Homo sapiens: one gene and its partners. The protein of the gene in region 3 interacts with the protein of the main gene of each other region in a pairwise test. Each region holds a gene or a part of one and is shown on either strand. Other genes may lie near its edges. The genes, in order: TIGAR, C1D, HIP1, FAM167A, TRIM23, KLHL36 and SYNCRIP.

What was found.
Region 1: the proteins of HIP1 (region 3) and TIGAR interact in binary tests that used the Homo sapiens proteins (3 or more experiments, as listed by UniProt).
Region 2: the proteins of HIP1 (region 3) and C1D interact in binary tests that used the Homo sapiens proteins (3 or more experiments, as listed by UniProt).
Region 4: the proteins of HIP1 (region 3) and FAM167A interact in binary tests that used the Homo sapiens proteins (3 or more experiments, as listed by UniProt).
Region 5: the proteins of HIP1 (region 3) and TRIM23 interact in binary tests that used the Homo sapiens proteins (3 or more experiments, as listed by UniProt).
Region 6: the proteins of HIP1 (region 3) and KLHL36 interact in binary tests that used the Homo sapiens proteins (3 or more experiments, as listed by UniProt).
Region 7: the proteins of HIP1 (region 3) and SYNCRIP interact in binary tests that used the Homo sapiens proteins (3 or more experiments, as listed by UniProt).

The regions. Positions count from the first base shown.
Region 1 is NC_000012.12:4,330,866-4,335,412, reverse strand, and holds part of TIGAR (fructose-2,6-bisphosphatase TIGAR), read right to left. Parts: intron 4,134-4,547; coding exon 4,096-4,133; intron 1-4,095.
Region 2 is NC_000002.12:68,052,352-68,056,898, reverse strand, and holds part of C1D (nuclear nucleic acid-binding protein C1D), read left to right. Parts: intron 1-3,761; exon of another isoform or gene 3,762-3,838; intron 3,839-4,547. UniProt on the Homo sapiens protein: Plays a role in the recruitment of the RNA exosome complex to pre-rRNA to mediate the 3'-5' end processing of the 5.8S rRNA; this function may include MPHOSPH6.
Region 3 is NC_000007.14:75,553,393-75,557,939, reverse strand, and holds part of HIP1 (huntingtin-interacting protein 1), read left to right. Parts: intron 1-169; coding exon 170-286; intron 287-1,128; coding exon 1,129-1,230; intron 1,231-1,770; coding exon 1,771-1,914; intron 1,915-2,388; coding exon 2,389-2,524; intron 2,525-3,413; coding exon 3,414-3,500; intron 3,501-3,719; coding exon 3,720-3,827; intron 3,828-4,350; coding exon 4,351-4,487; intron 4,488-4,547. UniProt on the Homo sapiens protein: Plays a role in clathrin-mediated endocytosis and trafficking. Involved in regulating AMPA receptor trafficking in the central nervous system in an NMDA-dependent manner. Regulates presynaptic nerve terminal activity.
Region 4 is NC_000008.11:11,442,754-11,446,395, forward strand, and holds part of FAM167A (protein FAM167A), read right to left. Parts: intron 3,263-3,642; exon of another isoform or gene 2,394-3,262; intron 2,056-2,393; 5' UTR 1,659-2,055; coding exon 1,278-1,658; intron 1-1,277.
Region 5 is NC_000005.10:65,606,839-65,611,385, forward strand, and holds part of TRIM23 (E3 ubiquitin-protein ligase TRIM23), read right to left. Parts: intron 4,206-4,547; coding exon 4,023-4,205; intron 2,621-4,022; coding exon 2,405-2,620; intron 1-2,404.
Region 6 is NC_000016.10:84,655,011-84,659,557, forward strand, and holds part of KLHL36 (kelch-like protein 36), read left to right. Parts: intron 1-1,860; coding exon 1,861-2,934; intron 2,935-4,547.
Region 7 is NC_000006.12:85,632,309-85,636,855, reverse strand, and holds part of SYNCRIP (heterogeneous nuclear ribonucleoprotein Q), read left to right. Parts: intron 1-4,547. UniProt on the Homo sapiens protein: Heterogenous nuclear ribonucleoprotein (hnRNP) implicated in mRNA processing mechanisms. Component of the CRD-mediated complex that promotes MYC mRNA stability.

The DNA of each region.
Region 1 (4,547 bases), on a different chromosome or scaffold from region 3:
TAACTTTTGGGAAGAAAAACATTCAGTCTATAACATGCATCTAATTGGAACTCTAAAGGAATAAAAAAAAAAAAATGGCCGGGCATGGTGGCTCACGCCTGCAATCCCAGCACTTTGGGAGGCTGAAGGGGGTGGATCACTCGAGGTCAGGAGTTCAAAGTCAGACTGGCCAACATGGCGAAATCCTGTCTCTACTAAAAATACAAAATTAGCTGGGCATGGTGGAGCACGCCTGTAATCCCAGCTACTTGGAAGGCTGAGGCAGGAGAATCACTTGAGCCCAGGAGGCGGAGGTTGCAGTGAGTCAAGATCACACCACTGCACTCCAGCCTGGGCAACAAGAGTGAAACTCCGTCTCAAAAAAATAAAAGAACAGAAAAAATGAAGGAGAGGAATATGAAAAGAAAATAGCTAAGAATTTCACAGAATAAGAAAACACATGTACATCAAGCAGGATACATTAAAAAAAAAATTCCTCCTAGATATATTATGAGAAACTAAAGAATATCAAAATTGAAGAGTTTAAAGGAAGTTACAGAGAAAGACATATTTCCTACCATGGAACACCATTTAGCTGATAGAAATCTCTTAACAGGAAAAATGGAACCAAAACTGCAGAATGCTATCTTCCAAGTGCTGAGAGAATCATCAGTTACAAGTGTGTACCGACTGAAGCCACTATGTTTACCACCAGCTGCTCTACACACACTAGAGGACTTTTCAAAGAACGTACTTCAGGAATGGTCTGAGACGAAAACAAATGAGGAGCAGAGAAACTTGCAAATATATTCATAAATTTAAATGCCATCTAAACAAATGAAGATAATAATGTCTACCTCAAGCAATTAAAAAAAGACAGGACTAAGCGACTAGACAAGTTCTTTGTATTTTTTGGAAGAGGGGATATTAATATTATACTTTATTAGGTATTGTCAGAGTAAATGTGTCCCCCCAAAATTCAAATGTTGACATCCTAACCCTCAATGTGATCGTATTAGGAGGCAGGCCTTTGGGAGGTGATTAGATCCTAGGGTGGAGCCCTCATGAACAGGATTAGTGTCCTTATAAGTGTTCTCAATCTATCTCTCTGCCATGTGAGGATATTAACCAGAAGACAGCAGTCCGCAAACCAGGAATCAGGTCCTCCACAGACACTGGATCTGCTGGCACCCTGATCTTGGAATTCACAGTCTCTAGAACTGTGTATTGTTTAAGCCACTGGGTCCATGATACTCTGTTACAGCAGCCTTGGCTAAGACAGGTATGAGGGTAAGAATTTTAAGATAACCTTGAAAAGAATGGAAATGGTACATCATTTGAAAGGTAGTGGGGAAAGTAAGAAAGTGTGGAACAGGAAAAAAACCAAGAACTTAAGAAGTAAAAGCAGGTAAGATTAAAAAAAGAAAGACTATAAAAAGAAGGGGAAAAAAAAAACAAAGAAAAAAAATCGAAACACATCAGTGACCAGAATAAAGGCAAACAGTCACTACTGCCAGTTAAAAGACAGATTCTAGGCCAAGCGTGGTGGCTCACGCCTGTAATCCCAACACTTTGGGAGGCCAAGGCAGATGGGTCACCTGAGGTCAGGAGTTTGAGACCTGCCTGGCCAACATGGTGAAACCCCGTCTCTACTAAAAATACAAAAATTAGGCCAGGCGCGGTGGCTAACGCCTGCAATCCCAGCACTTTGGGAGGCCGAGGTGGGTGGATCACCAGGTTAGTTCGAGACCAGCCTGACCAATGTGGTAAAACCCCGTCTCTACTAAAAATACAAAAACTAGCCGAGCCTGGTAGTGTGCACCTGTAATCCCAGCTACTCAGGAGGCTGAGACAGGAGAATCGCTTGAACCCGGGAGGTGGAGGTTGCAGGAGCCGAGATCACGCCATTGCACTCCAGCCTGGGCAACAGAGTGAGACTCCGTCTCAAAATAAATAAATAAATAAAAATTTAAAAAATGAGCCAGGTGTGGTGCCGGGAACCTGTAATCCCAGCTACTCGGGAGTCTCGGGCAGGAGAATTGCTTGAACCCGGGAGGCAGAGGTTGCAGTGAGCTGAGATCGCGCCATTGCACTCCACCCTGGGTGACAGAGCAAGACTCTGTCTCAAAAAAAAAAAAAGACAACTTATATATATTTTCAAAAGAGCCAAAATTTAGCTACATACTATTTATGAGATAACACTTAAACATGAGTATACACAAAGAGTGAAAGGAATGAGATGGAAAAATACATACCAGTGAAATTCCATCCCCAAAACAGCTCAAGTAGCTATATTACTGTCAGAAAAATAAGACTTTATGACAAAAGTCTCACTAAGGATTTGGGGACCACTATAAGAAAATCAGTGATCCAATTTACTCAGAAGATGTAATCATTTAAACTTGTATAAGCCTAATAAAGTAACCTCAGTCGATACAAAAGCAGAACATAGAAACCAAAAATGGATAGAATTCCAAGTATTAAAGGGCAAACTGGCCACTGCAGCAGGAAATTAAAAATACTGCACTCATAAATTGATATTTAGGACATGCAGGCAAACTAGTGCATTTATAAAGCTAATAAAGTGTGTAAGATTTGAAAAACAAAATCAAGAAGGCTGATTATTTTATATATAATTCCAGTCCCAACAATGACGGATTATACATTTTTCTGAAGCATACAATGGAAGAATTATAAAAACTGACCATAATTAACACATTTCAAAGAAGTATCATCAAATAAACCATACTGACAGAACACAAAAGCATTTATAATGGAAGTCACTCAATGGGAATTGAAAATACTTGGTGCTGAATGCTTACCACATTACCACGTGTCAAAACTACGGGCATGCAAACAAAAACAGTACTTAGGAATATATAAGCCTTGAGGCCGCGTGCGGCGGCTCAGGCCTGTAATTCCAGCACTTTGGGATGCTAAGGCAGGCATATCAACTGAGGTCAGGAGTTCAAGACCAGCCTGGCCAACATGGCAAAACACCACCTCTACCAAAAATACAAAAATTAGCTGGGCATGGGGGCACGTGCCTGTAATCCCAGCTACTCAGGAGGCTGAGACATGAGAAATCGCTTGAACCTGGGAGGCGGAGGTTGCAGTGAGCCGAGTTCGCACCACTGCACTCCAGGTTGGGCGGCACAGTGAGACCCTGACTCAAAAAAAAAAAAAAAAAAAAAAGAAATACATGAGCCTTGAATGCTTATACACAAAAGGCTGTAACTTAAAGAACTAAAGCATCCAACTGACAAGGTCAGGAAAAGAACACAAAAACTTTCTTGACGTTCCATTGTCAATGTCTTAGGAAAAAGAGAAATGAGCAATACCAAAGGCCAGGTGGTAAGAGGCTTCAGTCCAGAGGATAACCTGGGTGGGGCATATTTCGTCTGAAAACAAAGGTTCCTTTGAGAATCAGACCAGTTATTGTCCATAAAAGGGAGTCAGGCACACGGAATATGAAAATCAGTTTTTGTAAACCCCGGAAGTCCCTAACCAAAAAAATAAAACTAAATGCTTTTATAATCACAGCACAGAAATAGCATGTCTAGCCAAAAGTTCAAGATATTCTTAAAAAGCCAGACTAGCTGGATCACAGGGCAAATAAAAGATCTGAGTCCAAATTAACAGAAAAAGGGAGAAAGAATCTCTTCAGAATAAAGTAACGACCACATGTGAAAATAGTTCTTTTTTTAAACCTTTATTACTACTAAAATTAAAATAACCATCTTAGCAGAAAAAAATACCATTAACACCAGTCAGTAAACTTCATGTTTCCAAATATAAAATAATTTCAAATCCAGACATTTATATTTTAAGACACCCAGACCCAATATAATTAATCAGCTGACAGAGCCACTTTGAAGCCATACATAAAGAATAACTTGGAGACCTGTACTTCACACCCAGTTCACTTGAGAGATTTATTCCTCCTGGTTACTAACAGCCCTGATCATATTTCTGTGGTTATGATGCTTTGATTCTGTAATCCCAATTCACAATGGAGTGCTGCCCCCAGTCTACCCCACCCCACCAAATCTGCTTAACTCACACATCTTATTAACACAAGGGTGAGAGCTAAAATAACAATCGGATTATACCAACCTTGGATTATTTTCTCCTTGTTAAATCTTGTTTCTCCACTAAAATAGAAAGAGAAGGACAACCTTATTAGCCAAATTATACTGTTTTTGAGAGGAGGAAAAAAATGAGCAATCAAGTGTGGTGATACTCTAAAAATATCATGTGAAACTTGTAACACACTTCATAATCCAACCTGTAAAAACAATTTATTCTAAACTAATATTTGCAATTGTCTTCTTTAATGAAGAGCTAAGAATTTCAAACTACTCCAAACTAAAACGTGTAGATCAGGAACCAATCTTAAGTGAATTGCAGGTGGAAAATCCTACTAAAAAATATAATGCAAATAACATTTCAGCCAAATAATTTTGTTAAAAGAAATATATTGATCAAAACTACTCTTACTGGCAGCAGGAACAAAAACGTGAGAGTCAGTCTATTCATTGCTGGACTGAATGAGCAAGTGAAAGAGA
Region 2 (4,547 bases), on a different chromosome or scaffold from region 3:
TGCTAGGTCAAAGCATGTGTACATATGTGATTTTGAAGCATAGTGCAGATTACCTCACAAAAATGCTAAACTAATTTATACCCTGACTAATAGTGAATGGGAGGCTGTTCTCAGCTCACCTTTGTCCATTTTAGTACTATTAATCTTTTTAATTTTTCCCTATTTGACAGATGAAAATGGCATCATATTTTAGCGATTTATGTTTCCTTAATTATCAGTAAGGCTGAGTAGCTTTCTTTATGCTTATTGGTCATCTGGATTATTTGTGAACTGTTGATTTTCTTGTTTATTTTTCTTTTGGGTTGTGTGTACTTTTTTTGTTATTGTTAAATTGATTCATAGAGGCTTTAAAAAAATCTTTGTGTTGCATATGTCTTTTTTTAGTTTTTTATTTGACATTAGTCTTGGGTGTTTGTTTATTTGTTTATTTTGCCTGCATTTTTAAGGGCCAGGTAAAAATACAAGAAATTAGGATTTTTTTTTTAAAGAAGGGAATTTGCTGGGCTCGATGGCTCACACCTGTAATCTCAGCACTTTGGGAGGCTGAGGTGGGCAGATCACAAGGTCAGGATTTCGAGACAGCCTGGCCAACATGGTGAAACCCCGTCTCTCCTAAAAAAATACAAAAATTAGCTGGGCATGGTGGCACGCACCTGTAAAAGGCAGGAGAATTGCTTGAACTTGGGAGGCAGAGGTTGCGTTGAGCTGAGATTGAGCCACTGCACTCCAGCTTGGGCGAGACAGCAAGACTCTGTCTCAAAAGGATTTTTGTGATACTCTTGAAATAAATAGACACTCTAGAATGTGAGCCTTTTGTTGGAAATGTTAGTAATACAAACTTCATTTGAGACTATATGTTCAGCAACTATCACAGATGTAGTGAGCACCCAGTAACCTTCCTCTCCCTCACTCCAGTTATATTTGGAATTGAAATGAGATGTAATGGAGCTGCTTAAATATTCTAGACGACACCTTCTCTTTAGTTATTCTCCTATATATGAACGGAGTTGTATTCTAAAAGCTAGTTTGTGAGTTAGCCATCTAATTTCACTATAGAAATAATGTACATAGGTTCTTATCTTTGCTCTCAAAGTTGTAATAATTTGTGGAGGCTACTTTTTTTTTAAGCAAATTCAAAATGTTACATAATTTTACCCCTCTATACTTCAGTGTGCATCCTCAAAAGACAGGGAAATTTTCTTATATAACTGTATTGCTATTATCATAGATGACAGAATTATCAATAATTTGTTGGTGTCATCTAGTACTTTGTCCATGTTCAGATTTCTTTCTCACAGAACTATCTTTTTCCACTTGGTTTATTTGAATCAAGATCCAAACAAGGTCTGTGTATTTCATTTGGTTGTTACATCTCTTAAATCTCTTCTTCCTCTGTCTTTCTTCCCCCACTTTTTTTTTTTTGCTTCATGCTGTTGACTTGTTATGGAAACCTGGTCAGTTATCCTGTAGAGTACTGTATTTCTCACTCCATATTTGTTTGCTTTCTTGTGGTGTTAATTTGTTCCTCTATCCTTTGGATTTCCTATAAAATGGAAGTTAGCTCTGTAGGCTTAATTGTTCAGATTCAGCTTTTTTGGGAGTTGGGAATGCTTTGCAGATGGTGCTGTGTATGTTATATTGCCTCACATCAGGAGGTTCATAATATGTGCATTTCACCTACTTTTAGTGATCTGTTGGTGGTCATTGACTAAACCTACAATTTCATTAGGCGTTGCAAAGTCGTGATTCTTTTTTAAGTTGTCATTTCTTCTACATTTGTTAGCTAGAATTTGAAGTCTAGTTCTGTTACTTGGGAACCTGATAATCAAAATAAGCTTGTTGTGGGAAAGTATTGTCAGAGCAACAATATTTTTGATGCTAGGAATGCATCTTAGTGCAATAGTCTTTTTTTTTTTTTTAAAAAAAAAAGAAAGGATGTGGGCCTTGCTCTGTTGCCCAGGCTGGAGTGCAGTAGTGTAATCATAACTTACTGCAGCCTCGAACTCCTAGACTCAAGTGATTCTCTCACCTCAGCCTCCTGAGTAGCTAGGACTACTGGTGTATGCCATCACGCCCAGCTAATTAAAAATATTTTTTTTTTTTTTAGAGATGGGTCTGTCTGTGTTTCCCAGGTTGATCTTGAACTCCTGGGCTCAAGTGATCCTCCTGTCAGTCTCCCAAAGTGTTGGAATTACAGATGTGAGCCATGGTGCCTGGCTGTGATTGTCTTTTTAATGTTTCAACTTGGTTTGGCTGTAGCCCCCAGATATTTAGTCAAACATGAATGTAGGTGTTGCTGTGAAAGTATTTTGAAGCTATGATTAAAATCCATAATCAATTAAGTAAGGGAGATTATTCTAGATCATCTGGGTGGGCCTGATTCAATCAGTTGAAAGGCTTTAGAAGCAGAGCTGAGGTTTTCCTTCCAAAAAAGAAGAAATTCCACTTGTAGACAGCAGTTTCAGCTAGTAGCCAAGAGTTCCAGCATGAGTTCCTCCCTTCATAGCCTGCCCTATGTAAACCAGTTTCTTGCCATAACTCTCTTAATATATATCTCCTACTGGTTCTGCTTCTCTAGTTGAAACCTGACTGGTGCAAAGGGTAACTCCTCTGATGCTTCTGTTCTCCAGCTAAATGGGATGGGAAGCGGTAGTAAGGGTCAGAGAACTTGCATTGTTTAGGGTAGCCATATAATTTTTTGTTCAAACTGGGACTTCTGAGAAAGAAAGGAGCTGAGTTGATGGCAAGCTGAAACAACAGGCGTAAGGTGGAACTGTCTTGGGCAAATTGAGAGTTATAGTCACCTTGTGTGTCAGCCACTGGGGATACAACATGAATATGACACAGCCCCTCAAGGAGCATGTAGTCAAAGGAGAAGTCAAGTAAATAAAAATACATTAAGAGATAGTGTTTTAAGTGACATGACAGCTTATAGTTGTTGTATTTGTCCAGACAGAGAGCATAGAAGGAGAGCATGCAGAGAAGTCTTCACTGGCCGAACTGGAACCTATTTTTTACCTCCAAAGATAAGCAGCGTTTGAAAAAAGTGGAGTTGGAAGGGCATTTCAGGCTTAGAGAATCACACAGGTGAAAGTTGAGAGTGAGAGAGCACGGCACATTTGGAAAACTGCCATCATGGCCACAGCTCTAGGATTGGAAGAGGGGAGCCATGAAAGATGAGGTTAGGCAGACAAGCAAGGGCCACATCATAATGGGCCTTGCATCTACGCTGAGGGGTTTGGAACTGTCTTCCATGTGGGAGGGAACTGTTGCAGAATTTTAAACAGAGGAGTACCATGACCAGACTGTTTAAAGCATATTTTGTAATATTCTAAAACTGGGAGTGGAGAAAAATTGATAATAGGGACACTACTCAAAGGCTGTTGAAATAATCTAGTCAGTGAGAATAGAGGAAAGCTTGTGGTGTAAGGAGATTAAGGGAGCCATATTGACAGGACTGATTGGATTTGGGGTGCCTCCCAGGTTTCTGCCTGGATTGGCCACCCTGAAGTGGAGAATTAAAGGAAAGAGGTAGCTGATGACTTCAGTTCTGTATGTGATGCTATGCACTCTTGTTTTCTCCTATCGGTACTTTGGCTTCTGTATAACCAGTGAGAGGAAGGACTGAGTGGCAGTAACATCTGTTAGGGTTACTGGGCAGCATCCCCGCAACCCAGGTACTCAGTCTCAGCCACACCTTACTGAGTGGTGAAGAGAAGCAAGTTTTCTCATGCCCTCTCCGTCTGTCTCTACCTCTGCAGCCAGTGTTTTAGAAGGAGTATGTGGAAGGGCAAGGAGTACCTATAGAACCCCGGAGGAGGGTGAGGAGCAGAGCTGGGTGAGTTCTTTTCTTCTTTGGAAATTTTAACATGTACAACTTTAGGCATGTTCTTTAACTTCTTTTGGCTCAGTTTATTCATCTGTGAGGTTTAGATGAACAAGTGCATGTGGAATGCTTAGAGTAGTGCCTGGCACATAATCAGTGCTATTCAAGAGTTTGCTGCTGATATCGTAGAGTCACTGCTTGATCCTGGGGTCAGAGTAGCTAAGGGGACAGAGGGAAATTTCTGCGCTTTTTCTGTGGAAGGAATAAATACTCAGCAGCTGCCTATAATAAAGTGTTAGTAGAAATCAATTGAATTAGGAGGAATTTCTCATAATAGAAGAGCCTTTATTTTTTAGTCCCCCTTGTCTTTATTTTTTTAGTTAGGGAAAAGGCAAGTGGCTCAGTTCAGATTTAATGAGGGCAGTTATTCTTACTTACTACCATGCTTTCAGTGTTCACCCTAACCTGTTCTAACAATAAATAACTGCTTGTTTATTGGGGCTTAGGGACAGGGAATAATTGCAGGAAAAATCTCTACTATGTTCTTCTGAAGAAAGGAAATATTTTCTCGTAGGAAAATTTGATGAAAAAATTCACATTTAAATAAAGACCTTTTTTTGTTTTTTAAAAATACATACAGTATTTGTTAAGAGCCAAAATACTTTATTAAGTGCCTTTATTTGTTTTTTATTAAAAATTTAATATGTGCTTTTTGAAATGT
Region 3 (4,547 bases):
ATTTGAGCATCAAGCATCTGAAGGTGATGGCTCTGTTCCGGCTGTGGGTAGGAAAGTGATTCCTGTGTCTGACTCTAGGGCACGCACAGCCTGAGTATGATTGTCCTAGAAGGAGGATGTCCTCTAAGCCTGGGATCTCCTGGTTCAAGACACTGTTCTTCTTTTGCAGAATGCAGAGGTGACCAAACAGGTGTCCATGGCCAGACAAGCCCAGGTAGATTTGGAACGAGAGAAAAAAGAGCTGGAGGATTCGTTGGAGCGCATCAGTGACCAGGGCCAGCGGAAGGTGAGTGGGACGAGGAGCACTCGGGAAATGAGGGAGGGGGCTGTTGAGTTGGTGGCGGGGGCTTTGTGGCCTTCTGCTCCATGGGCAGTTCTGTGGGTCGGTTGGCATCACACAGCAGGGAGCACACCATGGTGGCCACACAGAACAGCAAAACACCGTCACCAGTGCATACACGAAGTAATGGAAGGACCCAAGTTGCCTGGGGTTAATCAACAAAGGCTTTCCAAGGATGAGGCTGGTGGAGAGTTTGAGGAAAGGAAAACACATGGGTGGCAGAGAGAGAGGGATGAGCGTTTTTTTTTGTTTGTTTGTTTTGTTTGTTTGTTTTTTGAGACGGCAGTAATCCCAGGACTTTGGGAGGCTGAGGGGGGTGTGGATCACCAAGTCAGGAGTTCGAGACCAGCCTGGCCAATATGGTGAAACCCCATCTCTACTAAAAATACAAAAGTTAGCCAGGTGTGATGGCGTGTGCCCGTAGTCCCAGCTGCTTGGGAGGCTGAGGCACAAGAATCTCTTGAACCTTGGAGGTGGAGGTTGCAGTGAGCTGAGACTGCACCACTGCACTCCAGCCTGGGCAACAACAGCGAGACTCCGTCTCAAAAATAAATAAATAAATAAATAAATAAATAAATAATAAAAAATCCTTCCTTGACATTCCACATTTTCAGTACACTCTGGGGTCTTGCCTCCTCCTCCCACACCCTGCACTTTTTTGGGGGGGTGTAACTTACATACAGTAGAGTTTACAGATCTCTTGTTGATCGCTTGGGACGTTTTTACATTTTTATATTCTTTGTCACTGTCACCCAGATCAGAGTCCCTCTGTTTTTCTTCTCTTTCAGACTCAAGAACAGCTGGAAGTTCTAGAGAGCTTGAAGCAGGAACTTGCCACAAGCCAACGGGAGCTTCAGGTTCTGCAAGGCAGCCTGGAAACTTCTGCCCAGGTAAATACCTCCTTTTTTTTTTTGGAGATAGAGTCTTCTTCTGTCACTCAGGTTGGAATGCAGTGGTGCGATCGCAGCTCACTGCAGCCTCCACCTCCCTGGGCTCAGGTGATCCTCCCCACTTAGCCCCCCGAGTAACTGGGACTACAGGCACACACCCCTACACCTGGCTAGTTTTTGTATTTTCTTTGGTAGAGACGGGGTTTCACTATGTTGCCCAGGCTGGTCTCGAACTCCAGGGCTCAAGTGATCCTCCCACCTCAGCCTCCTAAAGTGCTGGGATTACAGACATGAGCCTTCATGCCCGGCCTCCTTTCTTGCCCCACCCCTGGCTTTGGCGTTGCTGTCATCCACCATCCTTGGCCTGGCCAAGTCAGCCCCCACTGCAATCAGTGTGTCCCCGGGAGGGAATCAGAGTGGCAGGTTAAAGAGCCATCACCTTCCCAGTCCTTGCAACCCGGTGGTGGGTTGGACCTCTGGGAAGTAGGGACTGTTTAACTCAACCAGCGTCTCCCTCTTTCCTTGTGGTCACCTTTGCAGTCAGAAGCAAACTGGGCAGCCGAGTTCGCCGAGCTAGAGAAGGAGCGGGACAGCCTGGTGAGTGGCGCAGCTCATAGGGAGGAGGAATTATCTGCTCTTCGGAAAGAACTGCAGGACACTCAGCTCAAACTGGCCAGCACAGAGGCAAGTCACGGACATGGACACGAGCGAGCACCTGTGAATTCCCACCGAGGGCCTCTGCGCATGCACGGAGGCTGGGAGGACCCCGGGGCTGCTGAGAAGGGGTTTGGGGCCTTGGCCTGATTGTGCAGACATTCTGTAGGTGTAATGCCAGCAGGCCCTGCATTGCCTGCAGAGTCCATGAGGGAAAGCAAACTGCTGTCTTTTTTGTATGAGAAGAGAAGTTTGGCATCTCCTCCCAGCCATGAGAAGCGGGCGCAGTGATCCATCCCCACAGCCTCTGTGGGCAGCCGCACATCGTGGGCAGCCGCACATCCTGTGCACACAGTTAAAGCGCCTTTCTCTGTCTCAGGCTTACTGGCTTGGACCTCATTGGCCATGACTTGAGCTAAGATGCTAAGAGCCCCAGCCAGGTCATCCTGCTCAGGTTCATTATGGAGTCTAGGGCAGACTCTCACCTCCCTGGACCATTTTTAGGAATCTATGTGCCAGCTTGCCAAAGACCAACGAAAAATGCTTCTGGTGGGGTCCAGGAAGGCTGCGGAGCAGGTGATACAAGACGCCCTGAACCAGCTTGAAGAACCTCCTCTCATCAGCTGCGCTGGGTCTGCAGGTACACTTGCAATTGCCCAGCTGGCAGGGGCCAGGTCCTTACAGCCTGAGACTCTGTTGATGTTGAATCTCATGTGAGACTTAGCTCAGGGGCTCTCAGCCCAGCAGCATGTCAGCATTACCTTAGGGGCGCCCAGGCCCCATCCTAGATCAGTTACATGTGGAAACTCTGTGCATTAGTGCCTATACACTAGTATTTTAGTATTTTCTTCCCCCCCCCCGCCCCCCCGCTTTTTGAGATAGGGTCTTACTCTGTTGCTCAGGCTAGAGTGCAGTGCCGTGGCTCACTGCAACCTCCGCTTCCTGGGCTCACACAATCCTCCCCACTCATTCTCCCAAGTAGCTGGGACTACAGGCACGCAACACCACGCCCAGCTAATTTTTGGTTTCGGTTTGTTGCTCAGACTGGTCTTGAAGACCTGGGCTCAGGCTATCCACCCACCTTGGCCTCCCAAAGTGCTGGGATTACAGGCATGAGCCACCATGCCTGGCCTTGGCTAATTTTTTAATTTTTGGTAGAGACGAGGTCTCACTCTATTGCCCAGGATGGTCCCAAACTTCTGAACTCCCACCTTGGCCTCTCAAAGTGCTGGAATTACAGGCATGAGACACCACGCCAGGCCCAGCAGTAGTATTTTCTAAAGCCCCCAGGTGTGATAGCTACTGCTTTAGACAGTGGGTCACACTGATAAAACACCCACCAGGAGCAGACAATTCTGTTTCTCTAAGGAAAAAACTATGGTCTGAATCAAGAGGTGATTACTCATGAACTTCACGTCTAGGCAGGAAGCTTACCCACTAGGTAAGCTCCTCCATTCAGTGCTTAATTAACGAGGATGAAGCCAGCTATGAGAACTTGCTCTGACCTTGCCCTGTGTTCCCTCTCACAGATCACCTCCTCTCCACGGTCACATCCATTTCCAGCTGCATCGAGCAACTGGAGAAAAGCTGGAGCCAGTATCTGGCCTGCCCAGAAGGTAAGAATGGCCAAGGACAGTCTCTGTCGGCTAGTGATGGCCAGACAGGGTTCAGAAGCACCTGAATGCGGGGATAGTGACAGGTCCCTCTGCATCAAGAAAGGCATGTAGGCAACTCATACAAGAAAGGCATGTAGGCAACTCATAAAACGGGAGGAGAGGGTATGAAAGTGTCACCATCAACCAGACCTGAGAAACTTCTCTTTCCAATCCTGGCAGACATCAGTGGACTTCTCCATTCCATAACCCTGCTGGCCCACTTGACCAGCGACGCCATTGCTCATGGTGCCACCACCTGCCTCAGAGCCCCACCTGAGCCTGCCGACTGTGAGTACCGGGGCATGAGGGGCTGTTCATGGACCAGGGGAGCAGGGGGCCTTTAAAAGTCTCTGTTGGGCCGGGCGCAGTGGCTCATGCCTGTAACTCCAGCACTTTGGGAGGCTGAGGCGGGCAGATCACTTGAGGTCGGGAGTTCAAGAACAGCCTGGCCAACATGGCAAAACCCCATCTCTACTAAAGATACAAAAACGATGGGCCAGATGCAATGGTTCACGCCTGTAATCGCCGTAACACTTTGGGAGGACGAGGTGGGCAGATCACCTGAGGTCAGGAGTTCGAGACCAGCCTGGCCAACATGGCGAAACCCCGTCTCTACTAAAAATACAAAAATTAGCCGGGCATGGTGGCGCACCCGTAATCCCAGCTACTTGGGAGGCCGAGGCAGGAGAATCGCTTGAACTCAGGAGGCGGAGTTTGCAGTGAGCCGAGATGGCGCCACTGCACTCCAGCCTGGGCAACAAGAGCGAGACTCCATCTCAAAAAAAAAGTGTCTATTGCCTTGTATCTCCAGCACTGACCGAGGCCTGTAAGCAGTATGGCAGGGAAACCCTCGCCTACCTGGCCTCCCTGGAGGAAGAGGGAAGCCTTGAGAATGCCGACAGCACAGCCATGAGGAACTGCCTGAGCAAGATCAAGGCCATCGGCGAGGTACTTGGAGTAGTATCATTGAGGAGCATTGTTATTCTTCTGGGTGTGCGTGCTGGTGAA
Region 4 (3,642 bases), on a different chromosome or scaffold from region 3:
GTGCCTCATCTTCTCCGAAGCCGACAGCACATGCACCCTCTCGTTACTAAAGACGGATATAATAGAATGGTGTGTTCTGAGAAGCACTCTCGGTATCAAGTGTTAAAACGCAAACAGGCTTCCAATTAATCAGTCAGATCCCTGCGTCCCTGAGCCCTGCCCCACTCCAAACCCCAGTGGATTCTCTCAGCCCCTGAGGCATTCCAGGCCTCATGGGGATTTAGTTTTCGGGATTCTGCAAAACAAACCAAGCAGGCCTCAGCCTACCCAGCTGACCCAAGAGCCACTGCCGGCTCTGGAAGGCAGCTGCCCTTGATGGCTGGCTCACCTGTGGCCAGAGTGGCCTGACTCGCAGGTGTCACCTGGGCCTCAGGGACGGGGTGGGGCAGGGGTTGAGAGCTGGGGTAGGGTTAGCTTCATGCCTGGTGCTGCTGAGAGGCTGTCGTGCCAGACACGGGTGATTCTCCCCTGGGGGGGTGGAAGGGGACAGGGCACCCAGCTCTGCCCCCCCACCCTGTTCTCAGGCTGAGTCACCATGCACAAAAGATGCTCCTATTGGGAATCTGCTTTGCCTATGAGCAGGAAAGTGACCGCGCTGCGGTCCCAGCTCAAACACAATGTGCCTTTACCTCACACCTGGCCCCGCCCTGACTTCTGAGCCAACTCCTCCTCTGAGCCTCCTCACCGAGCTTCTCCCCAGGCAGGACCCATCCCGCCGACTCTGGGCAGCTCCACAACTCCTCACCACTCGAGCACATTCCACACCGAGCCAGCTCCTCACAGCAGCGCCCTGCACAGCCACACCCCAGCCACTGTGCCCCATGGAGCCACCCGGCCAGCGCCCAGCACAAGAAGAGGCCGCTCACGTGCAGAAGAGTGGTCCCCGGAGTGGCAGGCAGCTGGGGTGGACAGCAGGGTGGGGAGGTTCCAGCACAGAGGGAGGGGCAGTCACACCCCAGGAGCCAGACTCCAGTACTGGGAGCGGTGTTGGGGGGAGGGGGGTACACCTTAACATGGGTTCAGGTTCTGCCAGAAAACACCTGCTTCCTTCATTAGTGTCTGCAATTAGGGGCTGATGACACCTGGGTCCCCCCAGCCACATACAAATGACGCCTGCCTTCAACTCACGGGAAGATTACAGATGTGCACTTGGGGGTTAGAGAGAGGGGAAGAAATACATGGTGGGGGTGGGGAGACAGACAGAGAGAGACAGAAAAAGACACAGAGAGACGGTGGCATCTCCTCTTTTCTGGGGATTCTTGGGGGCAGCCACTCACCAGTTCCTTCCTGAGCCAGGCTATAGCTTCATCGATGCTCTGAAAGCCTTCCAGCTTGCCAGTGGACAGGGGTCTGGCACCTTGGCTGGCACTCCTGGCAGAAGGGGGGTGCTGCCCAGCCTCTCTCAGGGGGAGCAAGGGCTCCTGCCCCCCACGCTCCCCCTCCTCCAAGCTCGCCTGTGGCTCCGCAGCCGGCCTCGGGAAGGGCCAGGTATGCTCCTCCAGCCTGGCCTGCCATTCCAGGTAGGAGGGCCTGCGGGTCTCCAGCCTCAGTTTCTCGGTGAGGGCCTTCAGGCTCCGGAGGTGGTCATCGGGTGGTGCGGCTGCTCCCGCCCCCTCTTCTGCACCCACTTCTTCCACGTGGATCTGGGGCACAGACATTCTACAGTCTGCCCTGGCAGCCGGACATGCGAGGGCACGGGGGGCGCAGGGGGAGGCTTGGTGGGTGGCACAGTTGGGTCCCGCTCTGGGATGGCCTCATCCAGGTGCCCGAGGGCATTTCCGGGACAGGAGCCGGCCTCAGAGGCTGGGTGGCAGGGGAGCTGAGAGGGACCGCGCAGTGAGCCGCACAGGGCGCCCTCCTGGAGGCTCGGGTCTATGATCCGTCCTGGAAGCCTGTGGGTGCCATGCTCCACAGAAGGCAGGAACAGACAGCGTCGCAGGAATCTCGGGGCAGCCTGTGCCAAGGTCTATCTGTCCTGAACGCACTCGAAGACCAGACTGGCAGGAAGAAGGCCCAGAGCTCTCTCTTCTCGGGAAGGGCAGGTGGCTGGAGACCCTGTGGGAGGGATGAGAACCGCATCAGTCCCGATCCCTGCCCTGCCACTCAGAGGCGGGCACGTCCACTCCACAGGAGGGGAAACTGAGGCTCAGAGTGGACTGGTGGCTGCGCTTCTCATGGCTAGTCCGGGACGGAAGTGAGATCATTTTAATGCCTTAATTCAATGCAGAGAAGTTAATGAGCAATTGAAAAATTGTGCAGTGTTTTACCATTTATATAAAAACGACTCCGCCTCTACTATCTTATTTAATGCCCCCAGCAAGTCTGCAGGGATTTGTTTTTATTCTCATTTCACACACGAGGAACCCACATATCCTAGAAGTTAAATGACTCACCGAGATCTCCCAGCAATAAGTTGTGGGGACAAGCTCAGGCTGTCTGAATCTGAGGCCACAGGTCTTTCCTCTCTGTGGCAACAGCCGGGGGGTCCCCAGAGCCAGCCAGCAGGGAAACCGCACCCCACACAGGCTAAGGTGGGTCTGCTCCGTCCAGGTGCCACTGCCCCCTCACCACCTCCACCCACCACAGGTCCTGTCCTCCAGCAGCCGTTTCTACATCCAGGTCTTACTCTACGCTCCTAGCTTCTTCCTCCAAGAACAACACCTTACCTCACCTCTTCAGAGACAGAAGCAAATAAACCTGCAGCTGTGGAGGGAAGAAGGCGGTGGCACCTGGGCTGGATGGCTAAACAAGCAGGCTGTGACTCATTGTTCTAGAACGAGGCTTCTCGTGTTCACCTAAGTGCCCGCATGGCAGCACCTGTTTGGTAAAGACTTCAGCTATGGGATCTGATGTGGCCTCCCCATCTCCAGAGAGGAGGCATAAGCCCCAGCTCCTACCCCATAACATCAGACACAGGGTAGAAATCTAACTCCCAGTAAGAAGAGACCGCAGCCTCCAGACTCTGTGGTCCGAGGTCCATGGGGTGGGCAGTGGACATGGGTGAATCAGAGTAGGAGACATCTGATTTGGACCCAGGTGGTAAGCCCTGGATTTTAAGGGTGTGTTTTAAAAAAAAAAATCTGTGCTGGGGGACATGCAGCTATAAAAAAGAATGAATTGATATGGAATGATGTTTGAGATAAAGCTTAAATGAAGAAAAGCAAGATTCTCAGCAGCCTGGAGAGTAGGCCACCCTTGGGGTGAAAAAGGAGAAAGAAAGAGGGATTGTTACTGACTTGTAAATGCCTAAAAACATCCCGGCCAAAAAAAAAAAAAAAAAAAAAGGAAGGGAATAGCCATAGTCATGATTACTTGTTTGGAGTGAGGGGAACTGGGCAGAAGGGAGGTGAGGATAGGAGGGAAAAGAATTAAGATGAGGGTGGCAAAAGCTGAACAGGCAGCAGGACCACCTCGCGGTGTCCTGGGATTCCTCTCCGACATGGCACGCAGACGCTTAAGAAAGGAGAGCAGAACTTTCCAGTCCAGACGTTTTCCTCAGCCCCAGCCTGTGGTGGGGATGTGAATGGAGGACGTCCTGCTGCCCGACCTCTGCCGCCCTAGGCTACGAGCCTGCCCTAGCAAGGGGCATCCATGGAGAATGAGAAGGAATAGTCCACCCCAACTGGTAAGCAGAGAAACCCG
Region 5 (4,547 bases), on a different chromosome or scaffold from region 3:
TCTCAGAACTTTCTAACATATAGTATAATTAACTTACTTAGATATGGTTATGGTTTATTGCCTGTCTTCTTGCTAGAATGCTAATTTCACAAGATTATGGCTTTTTGCTTATTGTGTTCACTGATATATTTTAAATACATGGCATATGTTAGCTACTCAATACATATTTGCTAAATGAATAAATATTCAGCATCCAGTATCATGCCAAGAACTTTAGATGATGCATAATTTGTTTAGAGTGGATGGATGATTAAATTATGTTCTCAGAAGTGAAGATCAATTTGTGATGTTCCATCCATTCCTCTGTTCAATTTTCTCTGTAGTGGGAACTTTAAAGAACATTGGTTAGTATTCTGTAGTTATAAAATAGAACAAAACTAATAGGTCCATATGAAAAATGAATCCAAGACCTTGATTTTTTTGCATTAACATAGATAATACTGTATCATTAAAAATTACCAGTTGATATGGTTTGGCTCCGTGTCCTCACCCAAATCTCATCTCGAATTGTAATCCCCACATGTCAAGGGAGGGACATGATTGGATTATTGGGGCAGTTTCCCTCATGCTGTTCTCATGATAGTGATTAATCATGACATCTGATGGTTTTAAAGTGTGGCACCTCTCCTTTGCTCTCTCTTTCTCTCCTGCCGTCCTGTAAACAAGGTGCTTGCTTCCCCTTCGCCTTCCCCCATGATTGTCTAACTTTCCTGAAGCCTCCCCAGCCATGCAAACCTGTAAATTAAGCCCCTTTCCTTTATAAATTACCCAGTCTCAGGTAGTATCTGTAAAGCAGTGTGAAAATGGACTAATATACCAGTCATTTTGGCACAACACTTCAGAAACTCTAAAATACTTAAATATTTCAGTAACTATGAACAAACTTTTTCATAAAATAAATATGAAAATACTTTTAAGTGTTCAAGTAAATATGATTTAGGACATGACTCCACTCTGATTTTGCTATGTAGCTTCATTATCCGCCATGAGTTAAACATGTATTTATTAAGCTCTTTCTATCTAGATGCAAAGAATTTAGTGACACAAAGATGAACAAGATGCATCAAAGATGAACAAGGTCAGCATCTAAAACACATAGGCATATTGTGTCATTCAAGGTCAAATCGGAAGACACAAATCACACCATTACTTGAATAGAAAGAACTTAAAATAAAAACTGTTAACTAGGTGTAGTTATTAACTAGGTAGCTAAAAGGTTAAAAGGAACTCTGAGGTATTAAGGAGGTAGCAATTGTATGAAATAACATAGCTACCACTTCCAGTGCTAAAGGAATAAAAGGAAGAAGTTAGAATTATTAAAACTTAGAAACTTGCAGGAGTGGCTCATGGAGCTGAAACTCAAACCTCCGAGAAGGGTGGTCTCCTCACATGAGTAACTATGCCCCCTCTTGACAGTACCTAACATGGGCCCAGCTGGCAACACAATTATGAGGTCTGTAGAGTTCTAGCCCTAGTATCACAAAATAGAGGATAGAAGAGTAGGTTTGGAGCTGAAAATCAACTTAATAAATAGCATACATATCAACTGTTACAATTCAGTGTGGTAAGGACTAAATGATAACCCAAGACTGATGAGGCTATAGACTGGCCACTCTCATGTAAGTGTAATCACATATTTAAGAGAAAAAGCTCTACAATGGTACAAGGCTTAGCCTACAATGATTTGAAATCAACACAATTATTAGCAATATATCAGTGAAGATAACACAGACTGCAGCTTTTCTGAAATTCCTAGGGCAATAGTTATTCTTATACCTCACACTTATGAAAACAGATCCAAAACACAAATGGGTAAAGCTGACATTTGTGTTAGAATAACTGAATCTCATTTATTTAAAAAAGTAAGTCATCTGCAAACTGGGTAACAAATTTCTTATGGTATCTCAACCATCACAAAACATACGTTTGCTCTAACAGTGAAGAACCACTGAATTATAGCAGACGTAGGCAGTACATGGTAGAGAGGCACTCAAAAAAAGACCAACAAATAGAAAGCTTCAAAGAAAGGCAAATATTTAAGCTGGACCTTGAAGGAGAAGGAAGATTTCCACTATTAGAAAAGAGAGATATATGCACTCCAAGCAGAAAAAAAAAAAAAACTACATATATGCTTGGCAAAGAAGAGTAAAAGGATTTGGCATAACTGAAGAATGGCAAGAAGTTAGAAGGCCTCAAGAACCCATGGCTTATGGTGGGAAAGGCACGTGAACGACACTGATAATTCCATACTAGTGAAATAATTCAAGGTTGCAGACCATTTCCTAAGCACAAAGTTACTGCATACAGCAGACACAAAATATTAATAAAACACACTAATGTATACCTCTGGTAATTATCTACTTAAACTTACAACTAAGTCCCTAACCACATTTAAACTACCTACCTGCTGCAAAGTCTTTTCACAGTGGAGGCAGGCTGCAGAAACCTCTGACAACAAAATAGTCATATCTTCTTGTTGCTGCCTGAGCCAAATCAATTTTTCACGAACATGAGCATCAACAACACTTAGAGCCATTTCTTCTTGACGACACAGAGTTTCATGTAGATCATAAAAATAAGCTCGAATACATGACCGGGCATTCTCTGCAGTCCCTGGTACCTAAGAAAATGAAAATAAATTTTAAGCAACTGTAATGTTAATAAAGATTTTACCTGTGAAATATTTAAAATTTCAGCCTAGGCAACATGGCAAAACTCTGTCTCTACAAAAAATGGAAAAAATTAGCCAGCCGTGGTGGCATGTGCCTGTAGTCCCAGCTACTCAGGAGGCTGAGGCGGGAGGATTGATTGAGCCCCAGAAGTCAAGGCTGCAGTGAGTGGTGATCACAACACTGCATGCCAGCCTGGGTGACCGAGCGAGACATTGTTTAAATACCATCTATATTAAATTCCAAAATATAAATCTCCATGCTAGATCTTTCCCCTAATGCACAGACATTGGAAATTCAACTGTTTATAAATGACATCTCAAGCAAAATGGAATGCCTAATCTCCAGTCTCCCCTATTCCCAAACCTAATTGCCTCTGTCTTGGTAAATGGCAACTCCATCCTTCAGGATGTTGAAGCAAAAACAACCGGAGTCATCATTATCAGCTCTCTTTCATAGCCCACTAGTCCCTCAGCAAATTCTGCTGACTTCAAAATACACCCAAAATCTGATCATGCCTCATCACCTCTAAGTTACCTATCCAATCAATATTAACAATTAATCACTAAGACCTATCTATTCTACTTATTTAAAATCTCAAATCCATTGACTTGTGTCCACTCTCACTACCCTAGTGTATTATAGGCCATAAACATCTCTAGTATTTTAACTAGAAAACTTTAACAACATCCTAATAGGTCTGCCTGCTTCCAATTTTGTTGCTCCTCCAATTCATTTTCTACATTTAAAACAACCTTTCTTGAGGAAAATCTGATTATATCATTCCTAAGTCAATTCTTCAATGGCTCATCACTGTCCTTAAACTAAGTTCTGAACTCTTTAACATGGCTGACAAGATCCTGCATGATTTGGCTTTGAACTCTCCATATCCTCTTTTCTTGTCATGTCCCATTCAATACTTAAAGCTCTAACTACAGTGAGCTTCTTTAAGTCTCTACAATATGTACAATCCTCACTTACAAACATTTTAACATATTGTTCCCTTCTTGGGACAACTCATTCCCCGTTCTGCTCTTTTCCCTGACTGAAATTCTTCAAATCTCAGTTTAAACACCATTTCTTCTATAAGGACTTCTCTGACCTCCATAAATCATTGTCCCTGTTTTGTGATGCCAAAGCACCCTGTACTTCTCCTCCATAAAATAGTTACCATATTTCAAACTCTCTCTTTTCCATGATGAATGAGTTCCTGAAAGACAGGGACTTTTAAAAAACTTTCTAATGATTGGTGCAATACTGGCAAATTGTAATTGCCCATTAATTACTTAGTAGAAGGTGAAAATATGAAAAATAAAAAAGAATGAGAAAGTGAAGAAGAAAAAAAATCCATACATGTTCTGTGTGAGCCATTCCAATTCCATCTTCCACGATTTGTTCTCCTCCTTCAATGTGCTGCACAATTCCAACTAATTTTCTGGAATAATCTGAGATTTCCTCTGTGAAGGTCCGTATGCAGTGAGCCATATCTAAAATTGATGCTCGGATCTGATTAGCTTCTGGTTCCAATACTGAATGCTATAAAATGTACCATAATTAGAGAAAAGAACTCATAGTATTGACTAATAATATAAAAAACTATTTAAATCCCTATTAATACAAAAAAGCATCAGCCACAAGTGACTTTTATGACACAGAAAAATACTAATTTACTTTCACTCCTTTATAAGAAAACTGTACTGCAAAGAAGTAATTTAAAATTTGGAAGTCCGTTTATTGCTAAACAAAAAACCAAGAGACTATCTCTAAAATCATATCCTAAGTAAGAGCTAACAGACATAAATATTGTCAAAACAATCTGGTGCATTATGAAAACATGCAAGCAAACAGAATGTTTGTTTCCTGCTCGAAAGCTATTTT
Region 6 (4,547 bases), on a different chromosome or scaffold from region 3:
AAGCCCGGTGTAGGCCAGCCTGGCTCTCTTTGTGGGTAACCAGGATAAATAGAGATCTCCACGTGTGTGACCTGTGAACTGAAAAGCCAGCCTGGAATGGAAGAGCGGGAGAGCCCGTCCTCTGAACTCAGAAGGAAATGCCAAGTCGGATCTGTCTGGCATCCTCCACAGGCTGTGAGAATGTGGCCTGCTCCTGTAGCATGGACAGAGAAGTTGCTGTTGGAATTGACTGGATGTGGAAATACCACAGGGAAATAAAGTGTCTCAATGACAAACGCATGTATGGCAACAAAAAGAAGATTTGAAAGGGAAGAAAAAAATAAAACCCACTGCTGTAGGACACATGTTAAGAAGCAACTTTTAAGAATTCAGAGCCTGGGCAGTTTAGGGAGACGTTGTCCCTGCAAATTATAAAAATCAGACAGGCGTGGTAGCGTGTGCCTGTAGTCCCAGTTACTCAGGAGGCTAAGGCGGAAGAATCACTTGAGCCCAGGAGGTCAAGGGCGACATAGTGAGACCTCGTCTCTACAAAAAAATTTTAAAATTAGCCAGGCATGGTGGCACACACCCGTAGTCCCAGCTACTCAGGAGGCTGAGGTGGGAGAATCACTTGAGCCCAGGAGGTCAAGGGTGCAGTGAGCCGAGATTGTGCCACTGCACTCCAGCCTGGGCAACAGAGTGAGACCCTGTCTCAAAAAAAAAAAAAAAAAAGTCGAACCACATAGCTGCTAATACCTAATAGCCCTCGGTCAGTTTTCTTCCTCCAACCACATTTCCCCTCTTCAGGCTAGTGCCCAGCCAGTTCTTCACCTCAGTCACCCTGGAATAGACCAGCTATCTATGTGATAGTTTTCAGTTACCTGTTTCTCCCTATGTTGAATTCATTTATTTATTTATTTAGAGACAGGGTTTCTTTTTGTCGTCCAGGCTGGAGTGCAGTGGCACAATCATGGCTCACTGCAGCCTCAAGCTCCTGGGCTTGAGCGATCCTCCTGCCTCAGCCTCCTGAGCAGCTGGGACTACAGGCGAATGCCACCACGCCCACCTAATTTTTAAATATTTTGTTAAGACAGGAATCTCGCTATGTTGCCCAGGTTGGTCTCGAACTTCCTGGCCTCAAGTGATTCTCCCGTCTCAGTCTCACAAAGCATTGAGATTACAGGCATGAGCCACCATGCCTGGCTTGAATTGTTGTGTTGTTTGGTTTTGGGTTTTTTTGGTTTGTTTTTTGTTTTTTCTTGTTTGTTTTGTTTTGTTTGTTTGTTTTTTGTTTTTTGAGACGGAGTTCTTGCTCTGTCTCCCAGGCTGGAGTGTAGTGGTGTGCTCTTGGCTCACTGCAACCTCCATCTCCTGGGTTCAAGCAATTCTCCTGCCTCAGCCTCCTGAGTAGCTAGGATTACAGGCACACGCCACCATGCCTGGCTAAATTTTGTATTTTTAGTAGAGACAGGGTTTCACCATGTTGGCCAGGCTGCTCTCAAACTCCAGTAGCCGGGCTGTCGTCCCAGCTACTCAGGAGGCTGAGGCAGGAGAATCACTTGAACCCGGGAGGCAGAGGTTGCAGTGAGCTGAGGTTGTGCCACTGCACTCCAGCCTGGGCGACAGAGCAAGGCTCTGTGTCAAAAAAAAAAAAAGAAAGAAAGAAAGAAAGAAGTTATATTAATAAGAGAAGGAAAAAAAAAACCACGATACACAGGCATACTCAGAAACACCTGTACTTCCTGCAGTGCCCTCTGATGCAGCATTTTATTTCCTGTTTTCTTCAGTTTCATTTTGTTGAAAATGCTGGTCAGGACCCACTGGGTTGGACCAGGGCCGAGCAGGCTGCTGCGCCGTTTCTAATGTGTCTTCTCTGTCCAGGTATACCGCTGGGCCGACCACTCAAGCACGGTGCTGCAGCGGCTGAACGAGCAGCGTCTCCGCGGGCTCTTCTGCGACGTCGTCCTGGTGGCCGATGAGCAGCGTGTGCCAGCCCATCGCAACCTGCTGGCCGTGTGCAGCGACTACTTCAACTCCATGTTCACCATCGGCATGCGGGAAGCTTTCCAGAAGGAGGTGGAGCTGATCGGCGCCTCCTACATTGGGCTCAAGGCCGTGGTGGACTTCCTGTACGGCGGGGAGCTGGTGCTGGATGGCGGCAACATTGACTACGTCCTGGAGACGGCTCACCTGCTGCAGATCTGGACGGTGGTAGACTTCTGCTGTGAGTACCTGGAGCAGGAGGTGAGCGAGGACAACTACCTGTACCTGCAGGAGCTGGCCTCCATCTACAGCCTCAAGCGGCTTGATGCCTTCATCGATGGCTTCATCCTGAACCACTTCGGCACGCTGTCCTTTACGCCCGACTTCCTGCAGAACGTCTCCATGCAGAAGCTGTGTGTCTACCTGAGCAGCAGCGAGGTGCAGCGGGAGTGTGAGCACGACCTCCTGCAGGCCGCCCTGCAGTGGCTGACGCAGCAGCCCGAGCGCGAGGCCCACGCCCGCCAGGTGCTGGAGAACATCCACTTCCCGCTCATCCCCAAGAACGACCTGCTGCACCGCGTCAAGCCGGCCGTGTGCTCGCTGCTGCCCAAGGAGGCCAACTGCGAGGGCTTCATCGAGGAGGCCGTGCGCTACCACAACAACCTGGCGGCCCAGCCCGTCATGCAGACCAAGCGCACGGCGCTGCGCACCAACCAGGAGCGCCTGCTGTTTGTGGGCGGCGAGGTCTCCGAGCGGTGTCTGGAGCTCAGTGACGACACCTGCTACCTGGACGCCAAGAGCGAGCAGTGGGTCAAAGAGACGCCGCTGCCCGCCCGGCGGAGCCACCACTGTGTCGCGGTGCTGGGGGGCTTCATCTTCATCGCCGGCGGCAGCTTCTCACGGGACAACGGAGGGGATGCGGCCTCCAATCTTCTTTATAGGTATGACCCCCGCTGTAAACAGTGGATCAAGGTGAGATTAAAGCCAGATTATTTCTTTTCTCTTGAGGACTCTCTCGGTTTCCTTAACCTAGCCTTGACTTTCCTTACCTCTCTGGGGCCTTGACAACTATCCTGCTTCTGAATGAGGTGTGATGATAAAGTGACGAGCAGAATACCCCGGGGCCTACATCCTGGACAGGGAGAGGGAGAGCCGACCCACCCCTTCGAGGGGTCCGTCATCGTTCAGAGCAGCACTGCCTGGCGGGGCTTTCTGTGCAGATGGAAGGGTCTGTCTGTACTTCCCGATACGGTAGCCACAGCCGCATGTGGCGACTGAGCACTTGAAATGTGGCCAGTGCGACTGAAGAAGTCAATTTTCAATTTTATTTCACTTTAACCGATTGACGTGTAAGTGTATGTGGCCGCACGAGGCGTGGCTACCCTATTGGACAGTAGCATGGGTCTAGATGTTTGATCCATGGTTCAACATCCCCAGGTCCTGGAGTCTCTGTGGGGCTCCTCTGGAAGCATTTTGGGAGATAGTTTAAGGAGACCACTAGTGCTCACGCCTGGCCCTTGGGCATGTATTGTGTCCTGATTCTGGGAAGAGCGTGGGCCTTGATGTCAGACCTGAGGTCTCATCCCAGCCTGGCTAAGTCATAGCTAGGAAATTTCAGATTCTTGTCCTCTCCACATTTTGGATTCCCCTTCTGGGAATACGTGGGGGACAGGGAGTGCAGTAGCTCATGTTGACTGGCAAGCCCCTGGCGTAGGGAAGGTGTCTCCTTTCTGCTGGGAGCGCTCTCCAGCCACTCGGTCCCCGGGACAGTCCATCTCAGCCTCTATACTCACACCTCAGCGTCGCGCCCAGCTCAGTGCTGTTCTCAGCTCAAAACCCAGTCAGAATGGACTCCAGCTGACCTTTTGATTTTACTCTCAGAAATCTGAGACTGCCCTCCAAGGTCGAAGTGTCACCACTGGAAAGGGTCCCTGGCTTTGGAGCCTCCTCCCGAAGCCTGGCAGCAGTGGCAGCAGTGTGTTTGCCTTGGATTCGTTTAAAAAAAGAAAAAAAAAAGTTGGCTCTTCTACTTTTTGTGTGTGTGTGTGTGAGACAGAGTTGTTCTGTCACCCAAGCTGGAGTGCAGTGGCACGATCTCGGCTAATTGCAACCTCTGCCTCCCAGGTTCAAACAATTCTGGCGCCTCAACCTACTGAGTAGCTGGAATTACAGGCGCCTGCCACCACGCCCGGCTAATTTTTGTATTTTCAGTAGAGACGGGGTTTCACCATGTTGGCCAGGCTGGTCTCGAACTCCGTGACCTCAGGTAATCCACCCACCTTGGCTTCCCAAAGTGCCAGGATTACAGGCGTGAGCCACCGCGCCCAGCCTCTTCTGTTTAATTTCCTGTCGAATGCCACGTCCTGCTCTGTTAACACGGAGTGGCAGAGCAGCACTAACTTTACAAATCTGATGTGGGGAGAGGAAAGATGAATTTTTATTTCATAAAGCCACTAGATCAGCAATTCTGACCCCTGTGACCACAGAGTTCCCATCCACGCGGCTAACGACATGACCAGAGAAGTTCGGGGGTTCAGAGCATCTCCATCCCCCTTTTGGGGACTCAGAGCGTCTCCATCCCACTT
Region 7 (4,547 bases), on a different chromosome or scaffold from region 3:
GCAGGTTTTTTTTTTCCCACATCACTGTGCAAGCATTGTAGTGTTATTCTTTGCATGTATAGTTGATAGGATTCAGCATCTAAAAGGCGGCATGGTAGAATTCCTAGCAATTGGTTCTTATAAACATCTGGCTTAGTGACGTTTTTGTGTGTTTGTTTAAATTTATAGGAATGTGAAAAGATTAAGAAAAGTAACTGTGGTAAGAGCTCTCATACTTCCTGGCCATACCTGAGCCATCTCTTTTTCTTAAATAATTCACAAAAGACATTGTGATACATTTCTAGTTGATGAAACAAAAGATTTTATGGTGAGTGGCAATGTTTGATTTAAAAATACCAGATGTTAGGTAAGGACCTGGTAATCTTTCCAACTTTTTTAAAAAGGAAATTTTTCTTTTTTCTTTTCTTTTTTTTTTGAGACCAAGTTTCTCTCTCTTGCCCAGGCTGAAGTGGCATGATTTCGGCTCACTGCAACCTCCACCCCTCAGGTTCAAGTGATTCTCCTGCCTCAGCCTCCCGAGTAGCTAGGATTATAGGCGCCTGCCACCACGCTCAGGCTAATTTTTATATTTTTAGTAGAGATGGGGTTTCGCCATGTTGGCCAGGCTGGTCTCGAACTCCTGACCTCCGGTGATCCACTCGCTTCGGCCTCCCAAAGTCCTGGGATTTTAGACGTGAGCCACCACGCCTGGCTAGAAAGAAATTTTAATATTTTAAATTATAGTTTATGTAAGTCCTTTAAACTAGTTTTATTAAGTTCTGTGACAGAAGTGGTTTCTGCATTTTATAGTTGAAGAGTTGGGGGCTAATTTAAACCCATAGAATGTATCAAGCAACACGACTGGGGAGAACTTTTGTACAAGATAGCTCACTATGCCATGTTTGTTAAATTTGCTTTATCTGGCTTACGTATCCTGTGGGTAATTCCAGACAAACTTAAAATCTTCAGACTCATTTTTTTTTCCCTCCCTCCTGAGTTTTACCCCTTCCTTTACCATGAGGTTTATCACTTTAAGCAAGCCTTAAAGAGAAAAATAAAACTCATAAGTCTTCCTTTTCTTTTTTTTTTTTTTTTTTTTTTTGGGAGATAGAATCTCACTCTGTCACCTAGACAGCAGGAGTGCCATGGTGCGATCTTGGCTCACTGCAACCTCCGCCTCCCAGGTTCAAGCGATTCTCCTGCCTCAGCCTCTCCGGTAGCTGGGATTACAGGCATTTATCACCACACCTGGCTAAATTTTGTATTTTTAGTAGAGACAGGGTTTCACCATGTTGGCCAGGCTGGTCATGAACTCTTGACCTCAGAAGATATGCCTGCCTCAGCCCCGCAAAGTGCTGGGATTGCAGACGTGTGCCACTGCACCCGGCCAAGTCTTCCTTTTCTATGTTGTGTGAATATTCCCCACTGGTTTGCATAATTGAGTATGATGGAAGTTAAACAGTACAAAATTATGTTACTTGAAAGAATATAAGCCTTTACAAAGAGAATTTGAGAATTTAGATATTTTCAAATCATGTCTGATTTTTCTCTTCATAAAAGAGTGCTTTGTGTTTTAGAGGGAATTCAGATTTACTGGTAACCTTTGAGTTGTCAAAATTTTAGTTTCAGCAGTTCAATTTGAGGGGAGGGGCATTTTAGAGCTCTAGAAAGAGGTACCTTAGAAATCCTTTAGTTTGTTTTTATGATTTGTTTTTTGAGACAAAGTCTCTGTCACCCACGCTGGAGTGTGTGGGCATGATCTTGGCTCACTGTAATCTCTGCCTCCTGGGCTCAGGCAATTCTCCTGCCTCAGCCACCCGAGTAGCTGGGATAATAGGCGCGTACCACCACACCTGACTAATTTTTGTATATTTGGTAGAGATGGGGTTATGTTGGCCAGGCCGGTCTTGAACTCCAGACCTCAAGTAATCTGCCCGCCTTGGCCTCCCAAAGTGCTGGGATGACAGGCATGAGCCACTGTGCCTGGCAGGTTGGTCTTGAACTCATGGTCTCAAGCAGTCCTCCTACCTCGGCTTCCCAAAGTGCAAGGATTACTGGCATGAGCCACCTTGCCTGTCCCAAAATCCTTTAATCTCCTATAAAAGAGTAGAATATTTTTGCCAAGTAGCAATAAAGTAGCAGTAAGTGAAAATGCAGAATGATCCAGTAAGCAATGAGGTATCATAACTACAGAAAGCTAATACAGTGGGCTCTCTCTACTGTGGGTCCTGCATTCACAGTTTCAGCTAGCTGAGGATTGAAGATACTCCCAAAAAACCCAATAAAAAAAAAAAACAACACACCAGTGTATGAGAGAATGTTCGTAGGTTATGTGCAAACACTATGCTATTTAAGAGAGTTGAGCATTCATGGATTTTGGTATGGGTTCCTGGAATCAGTCCCCCGTATGTGCTGAGGGACCACTGCAGAATTTAGCTAGTGGTGTCATCCATTTTTTAACATTATGAAAAAGAATCATTAAACTGACATCGTAGGTTACCTAATTCTTGCCGTCAAAATGTACCAATTATGGTAGGTGACCACTATAACTTATTTATAGATGTTTTCCAGAAACTTTACAGTAAAGATACATCATTAGAGGAAGATGGTTTATAATCCATTAGTAACAGTGATTTCGAGTGCCAGTAGACACTAGGAAATGTTTCCATTTGTACAATTGCCTTGTTTAATAAATACGTTAAATTATAAAATTGCATTGCTGTAGGTTGCTTAGAATATAGTCTTATTAATATAGTTTTTAAATATAATGGAGAAACTTCTATAGATAAGCATTCTTTTTGATTGGCGTAGGAATTAACCCTTGTCCTAAAACTTTCTACATTTCTTTCTGGGTTTCTCTGTTGTGATTTGAATCCTTTTCTGGGGGCATAATTATTTTGTACTATCTAATTAATAGGAGACTTTGCATTTTGTTGTCTTTTAAAAGATACTTTTGGCAGGGTGTGGTTGCTCACACCTGTAGTCCCAGCACTTTGGTAGGCTGAGGTGCAAGGATTGATTGAAACCAGCCTGGGAAACATAGACCCCATCTGTACCAAAAAGTAACAGATTAGCCAGGCAGCGTGCACCTGTGGTCCCAGGAGGTCAAGGCTGCAATGACCTGTGATCATGCCACTGCACTCCAGCCTGGGCAACAGAGACCCTGTCTCAAAAAACCAAAAAGGGGGAAAAAAAAAATTTCCAATGGTAGGTATTGGTATACAGCCAGTAGGATATATTGGTCATACCATCATTTGCTTTTTTTGACTTTTTAGTAAGTTTTTTTGAAACGGAGTCTCCCTCTGTTGCCCAGGCTGGGGTGCAGTGGTGTGATCTCAACTCACTGCAACCTCTGCCTTCTGGGTTCAAGTGATTCTTCTGTTTCAGCCCCCTGAGTAGCTGGGATTACAGGTGCACACCACCATGCCCTACTGATTTTTGTATTTTTAGTAGAGATGGGGTTTCACCCTGTTGGCCAGGCTGGTCTCAAACTCCTGACCCCAGTCTCGGCCTCGGCTTCCCAAAGTGCTGGGAGTACAGGTGTGAGCCACCACACCCAGCCTACTTTTAAGTAAATTGTTTATTTTATTTATTTATTTATTTATTTATTTATTTGTTTTTGAGATGGAGTCTCACTCTGTTGCCCAGGCTGGAGTGCAGTGGTGCAATCTCGGCTCACTGCAAGCTCTGCCTCCCGGGTTCACGCCATTCTCCTGCCTCAGCCTCCTGAGTAGCTGGTACTACAGGCACCCACCACCACACCCAGCTAATTTTTTTTGTATTTTTTTAGTAGAGACAGGGTTTCACCGTGTTAGCCAGGATGGTCTCGATCTCTTGACCTTGTGATTCACCCGCCTTGGCTTCCCAAAGTGCTGGGATTACAGGTGTGAGCCACCGCGCCCGGCCTTAAGTAAACGGTTTTAATTATTATTACTGTTTTCGGAGACAGGTTGTCACTCTGTTGCCCTTGCTGGAGTGCAGTGTCATGATCAATGCTCACTAACCTTGAACTCCCGGGCTTACGTGATCCTCCTGCCTCAGCTTCCTCAGCAGCTAGGACTATGAGGGCACCACCTTGCTAGGCTAATTTTTAAACTTGTAGAGGTGGTGTCTCACTATGTTGTCCAGGCTAGTCTTGAACTCTTGGCCTCAAGCAGTCTTACTGCCTTGGCTTCCCAAATTGCTGGGATTACAGGCATGAGCCACTGCGCCTGGCCATTGTTTACTTTTTTTTTAAAAGGATGCTTTACTGTGGGTAGGATCTGGTAGATTTGCTTTAGCACAACAAAGAACTAGATTTTAGAGAAAGTGAAGTAATTGAAACATTCTAGAGAAAATACAAATCTCAAGTTTTTTTGGATGTTTTTTGCCACTTTGTATTCATTTGCGGACATGAATACCCCTTTCCTAAGTATGTTCCTCAAGGGCGCATACTTTGGAAGCTATCTCTACTGTGTTACATTTTGAGATTCTACTTGTTACAGTTCTATCCAAAGTGAGTTTTTAATTGAAGTGTCATTCTAGTTATATATAACTAAATGTTGGGAAAGTGCCTCATGCCTCCTTTG